2 separate regions of the Homo sapiens genome follow, and region 2 is linked to region 1. The links come from fine-mapping of genetic effects on gene expression. A gene starts in region 1. The other region holds a variant in brackets. All regions are shown on one strand. Distances are from middle to middle. Region 1 holds the start of ZNF76 (zinc finger protein 76). Region 2 has its middle 16 kb from the start of TCP11.

Region 1 (2,500 bases):
ACCAAAAAGGAATGGAAAGAGGGCAGCATAGTGGCCAGGCAGTTTATTTCCATACTAGGAGATACAGAAGGGATTAATTCTAACCGTAGGAATTCTAACCATCAAATGTCACTCACTGGCCTACCTAAACTGAACTCTGGTCCCAGCCAGAACAAGTCAGGAAGAGGGGATGTCTAAGACCGAAAGGGGGGCTTTCTAGTTAAGCTCTTCAGGCAGGAGAGGAAAAGGATGCCCGCATCCCCAAAGACACCTTTAGCTACCACAAGCCCCAAACCCCGTACTTTGTAACTGTGTCTAGTTTACGTCCTTTAAAAATTATTCTTATTAAGTTAAATTGTTTTCGGGGCGGGGAAGATACAAAAGAAACCAGTTAAAGTCTGAAAGGATAGAGAGGGGAAAGTTTCTCACCTCATTCTTCCAGCCACCCAGTTCCTCTCCTAAAAGGCAATCTTTACCAGTTCCTTCTCTAACGCCCCTCCTTTTTAATTTGATTTTTTACCGAAAGCTCGCTCCCTTTTAATTTTCCCTCAGGTTTCTGAAAATTTCCCAATCGCAGCCCCTCCCAGCAGGGAAATAGTAAAGGGGCTTGGTTTTTATGTTCAACCCAAAGCAAGCCTACAAAAGGGAGTAGTCGGTTTCGAGCCTGACGGTGGAGCTGACGCGGGAATGAGAGAGAACCTGAGAAGACCGCCAGGGCGCCCTCCCTGCGGAGGCGAGTCCCTCACCGCCCCTCTACATCGTCCTTTTCAATAAGGAGCTCTTAATACCTGCAACTGCTTCCTTCAAGGGGTGGCTGGAAGATCAGTAGGCAAGGCCTGCGGACTGCGCACCTTAAAGCGCTTCGGGACCGTAAGACAGTGAGTGCTGAGCGCGCGGCCGGGAAGAAGCCTGGAGGCTCTGAGCTCGGAGGACAGAGACCGAAGCCCCAGGGCCTGCGTCCCTCACAACCTGCGCCTCCTGTCCTCCCGCGCTACTCCCGAAGCGCACCTTCTCGCCCGCAGGCCGCAGAAGTGATGACGCAAAGCCCTCGGGGCCTCCGCCACCTCCTCACGCTTCTGCTGGACCGAATCCTTGGAATGGACAGGTAGCGGTTCCCGATTGCTATAGCGACGACCCGGCTCCGAGCCGCGCCCAGGCCCTGACCCGGGCGTCGTGACGTCAGCACGCCTTCCCTGGGCGCTCAGCCTCGCTGGCCATGCGTCACCCCGGCCTTGGTGGGGGCGGGGCTCCGAAGAGCTCGGTTCAGATCCCGGCCGCCTGGGCTCCAGGAGCCCCGGAACCAGGATAAGTTGGATGGCTGCCGCGGCGAAGCGGGGGGCGGGGTGGACCGTGCCCGGTATTTTCTATACGGGTTCCGGGGCCCGGTAGAGGCGCGCCAAGAGGAAAGGAAAGTGCGGCGGCCCTGGAACCTGGATATCGCGCGAGGCAAGCTGCGCGCGGGCGGGCGGGCTATGGCGCAGGCGGGTTGTGGGGCCGGCGCTGGTGGCGGGGCCCGGTGCATGGCGGTCTGTCGGCGGAGTCGCCCTCGGGGGCTGTCAGGTTGGTGGCTGCGGGAGGAGTGGGCCAACCATGCCCAGGGCGGGAGGCCGGGCGGGCGCAGGACCCCGGGAAGGTCCCGAGCCCGGCGTGCCCACCTCCCTCCGGCCCTAGCAGGGCGGCCTGGCCGCTGGACCGCGGCCGGGCCCCCTCCCCCACCCAGGGTCCCTGCCCCTCTTTTCCGCCTTGCGGCTCCTCCCCCGTGACTCCCAAACCTCACCCCGTGACGGCGCCCGCCTCCACCCTTGTGACCCCACACCCCACCCACTGACCCCAAGACCTCACCAGGTAACCGTTGGTTATTATTCATTGGCTGCTAACCCAGGAATTTCCCCAGCACTTCTCAGAGACCCACCAACCAGTGACTCCCTCAGTTTTAATCCGGTGACTCACATGACCCTGAGATCCCCACACTCCTCCTTAGTGACCCCCAAACCTGGGTAACCCTCCTGGCCCAGTAACCCCCCCGATTCTACCTTGTGTTCCCCACAAACTCGGTGACTCCCCTCAAAACTCTGCTGGCGACTCCTAAGCCCTACTCCAATAGTTTTCCACGCACTCACCTTGTACACAACCCTCAGTATCTTTATCCTGTAGCCGTATGACCCTCGTTCCACGTCTGCCTTTATCCTAAAATCACCCCCACTGGCATCTCTCTCTGCGATCCCAGCCCTTCAGTGTCAATCAGCACATGACTTACAAGCGTCCAGCACCTTTCTGGTGCTAAGGAGGATATAGAGATTAATATGAAGTAGTAATAATTGGAGGCATCAGAGAATTCTGGATCAATCCAGAATCCAGTCAATCCAGTGTGTGGTCCCAGCTCTGTCACTGCTGTGCTTTAGGGACCTGTGAGAAGTCCCCTCCTCAGTCTGGACCTCAGTTTCTCATCATGACTGTGATGAGGTTGGGTTAGATGATCTTTGAGTTTCCTTCCGTCTGTGAAATTGTGAAATTATGCAGT
Region 2 (3,021 bases), 100 kb before region 1:
CTTGCTCTGTCACCCAGGCTGGAGTGCAGTGATGTGATCACGGCTAACTGCAGCCTTCACCTCTTGGGCTCAGGCAATCTTCCTGCCTCAGCCTCCTGAGTAGCTGGGACTACAGGTATGTGCCACCACACCCAGCTAATTTTTAAATTTTTTGTAGTGACAGGGTCTAATCTTGTGGCCCAGTCTGGTGTTGAACTCCTGGGCTCAAAAGATCCTTCCATCTCAGCCTTCCAAGGTGTTGGGATTGCAGGTGTGAGCTACCGCGTCCAGCCTAACATTTTTTATAGTACAGTTTTGCCATTGATGATTTTTTTCAACTTTTGCACATCTAAAAAGGTCTCTATTATAGCTTCATTTTTGAAGATACTTCTGCTGATATAGGATTCAGATTGACAGATTTTTTTTTTCTTTCAGCATTTAAAATATCTTGCTGAACTGTTTTCTCACTTGCCCTGTTTCCAGTGGGAAATCTGCTGCTATCCTTATATTTGTGCCTTTATATGTAATATGTCTTTTTTTCTCTGGCTGCTTCTAAGATTTTCTCTTTATTATATATATTGAGCGATTTGATTATATGTGCATTGGTGTAATTTTCTTCAGATTTCTTTTGCTGGGGCTCATTGAGCTTCTTGGATTTGTGGGTTTATAGTTTTCATAAAATGTAGAAAATTTTTGAGCGTTACTTCTTCAAATATTTTTTCTGTACTCCCTGTTTTTCAGGGACTCCAATTACATGTATATGAGGCTGCTTGAAGTTGTCCTGTAGCTCACTGATGCTCTTTTTATTTTTTAAGCATCTTTTTTCTCTGTATGTTTAATTTGGAATAGCTTCTATTGTTATGTCTTTCTAATAACTAAAATTTTCCTCTGCTACATCTAGTCTGCTATCAACCTTAGCCAATGTAATTTTCGTCTTACTCATTGTAGTTTTCATGTTACTAATTGTAGTTTTCATCTCAAAAGTTCATTTTGCATCGTTTAAATATTATGCATGTTTTTGAACATATGGAATATAGCCATAATAACTGTTTTAACATACTCGTCTGTTAATTCTAACATCTTTGTCAGTTTTGGGTCAATTTTATTTTTTATTTTATTTTTATTTATTATTATTTTTTGAGACAGAGTCTCACTCTGTCCCCCAGGCTGGGGTACAGTGGCGCGATGTCGGCTCACTGCAACCTCCACCTCCTGAGTTCAAGCAATTCTCTTGCTTCAGCCTCCCTAGTAGCTGGGACTACAGGCATGTGCCACCACGCCCGGCTAATTTTTCGTAATTTTAGTAGAGACAGGGTTTTACCATGTTAGCCAGGATGGTCTCGATCTCCTGACCTCGTGATCTGCCCACTTCGGCCTCCCAAACTGCTGGGATTAGAGGCGTGAGCCACCGTGCCCAGCCAGTTCTGGGTCAATTTTAATTGATTGATCTTTCTTCTCATTATAGGTTATATTTTGCATGCCTGGTATTCTTTCATTAGATGCCTAATGTGAATTTTACCCGTTAAGTACAGGATATTTTGGTATTTCTATAATATTCTTGAGCTTTGTTATAGGATTGTTATAGGATTCGATTAGGTTACTTGGCAACAGTTTGATTCTTTTGGTCTTTCTTTTAAGAGTTACTAGGTGGGAGCTGGGTGCGGTGGCTCACACCTGTAATCTCAGCACTTTGGGAGGCCAAGGAGGGTGGATCA[C/A]AAGGTCAGGAGATTGAGACCATCCTGTCTAACACAGTGAAACCCCATCTCTACTAAAAATACAAAAAAATTAGCTGGGCATGGTGGTGGGCGCCTGTAGTCCCAGCTACTCGGGAGGCTGAGGCAGGAGAATGGCATGAACCCGGGAGGTGGAGGTTGCAGTGAGCCGAGATCGTGCCATTGCACTCCATCTCAAAAAAAAAAAAATAGTTATTAGGTGGGAGCCAGGCGAGTTGGATCATGCCTATAATCCCATCACTTTGAACATTTTGGGAGGATGAGGCGGGAGGATCACTGGAGCCCAGGATTTCAAGACTAGCCTGGGTAACATAGTGAGACTCCATCTCTATTTAAAAATATAAAAATCAGCCAGGCAAGGTGGTGTGGGCCTATAGTCTTAGCTACTCAGGAGCCTGAGGTGGGATGATTGCTTGAGCACAGGAGGTTGAGGCTGCAGTGAGCCAAGCTTGTGCCACTACACCCCAGCCTGGGTGACAGAGTGAGACCCTGTTTACAAAAAAATTAAAAAGCGTTATTAGGTGGGACCAAAGCAGTGTTTTGTGTTGGGGTAATTATTCCTCAATACCAAGGCAGTACCCTTTTGAGTAATTTACCCATGCCTCATGAATTATGAAGTTTTCCAGTCTGGCTGGTGGAAACACTCTTCCCACCTCTGTGTGAACACATAACATTGCTCTCTCGTCCTCTTAGAAGGTTCTCTCCCTAGCCTTGGGTAGTTTTCTCACCCTATGGGTCAATAATGCCAGATACTTGTGGGAGACCCTCTACACATCTCCAGGCCTCTGTGTAGCTCTCTCCTGTCTGGTATTCTGTCCTGAAAACTCTAGCTACCTTGGTATCCTTTTAGCTCTGTCTCTTCAACTCAGAATTGGCTGAGACGTGCCTGGTTTTCTCTCCCTCTACCACAGCCTGGAAGCCTTCATAAAGCAGTAAGCTGTAGGGCAGTTGTGGGGCTTACCTTGTTTTTCCATCTCTCAGTAAATGTCCTTTCTTGCCTGAAACAGTCTTGAAAACCAACTTACCTTCTTTCCTTCCTTCCCCCTTTCTTCCCATTCCCTCCCTCTCTTATCTCTCTCATTCTTTCCTTATCTCCCTCCCTCACTTCCTCCTTTCTTCCATCCTTCTTTGTTTCATTTCAGGAAGGAGAGGAAATCCAGTCACTGTTGCTCCATCTTGGCTGGGAGCAAAATTCCTTTCTGTTCAAATTCTTTCTTATCCTTTGTTACAACTGTAATAGTGCTGGGCACATGGTTGGTTCATTGATTGAATGCTGCTTGAGTGCATTCATCTTTTAAGTAATAATATC

Evidence for each region. PIP is the estimated chance that this variant, and not a neighbour inherited with it, causes the effect.
Region 2: its variant is the best candidate, but not a certain one, in a credible set for the expression of ZNF76 in subcutaneous fat (GTEx, PIP 0.57).

The regions. Positions count from the first base shown.
Region 1 is chr6:35,258,303-35,260,802 of GRCh38, forward strand. ZNF76 (zinc finger protein 76) reads left to right here and starts at 1,433. Exons shown (of 14, transcript NM_003427.5): 1 at 1,433-1,539. SCUBE3-AS1 (SCUBE3 antisense RNA 1) reads right to left here and starts at 1,153. Exons shown (of 4, transcript XR_001744102.2): 1 at 988-1,153. RefSeq lists silencers at 1,416-1,535, 1,546-1,865.
Region 2 is chr6:35,155,849-35,158,869 of GRCh38, forward strand. No RefSeq gene overlaps it. Among named protein-coding and RNA genes, the nearest start is that of TCP11, 16 kb to the left of the region's middle. The variant C/A (reference allele first, on the strand shown) is at 1,695.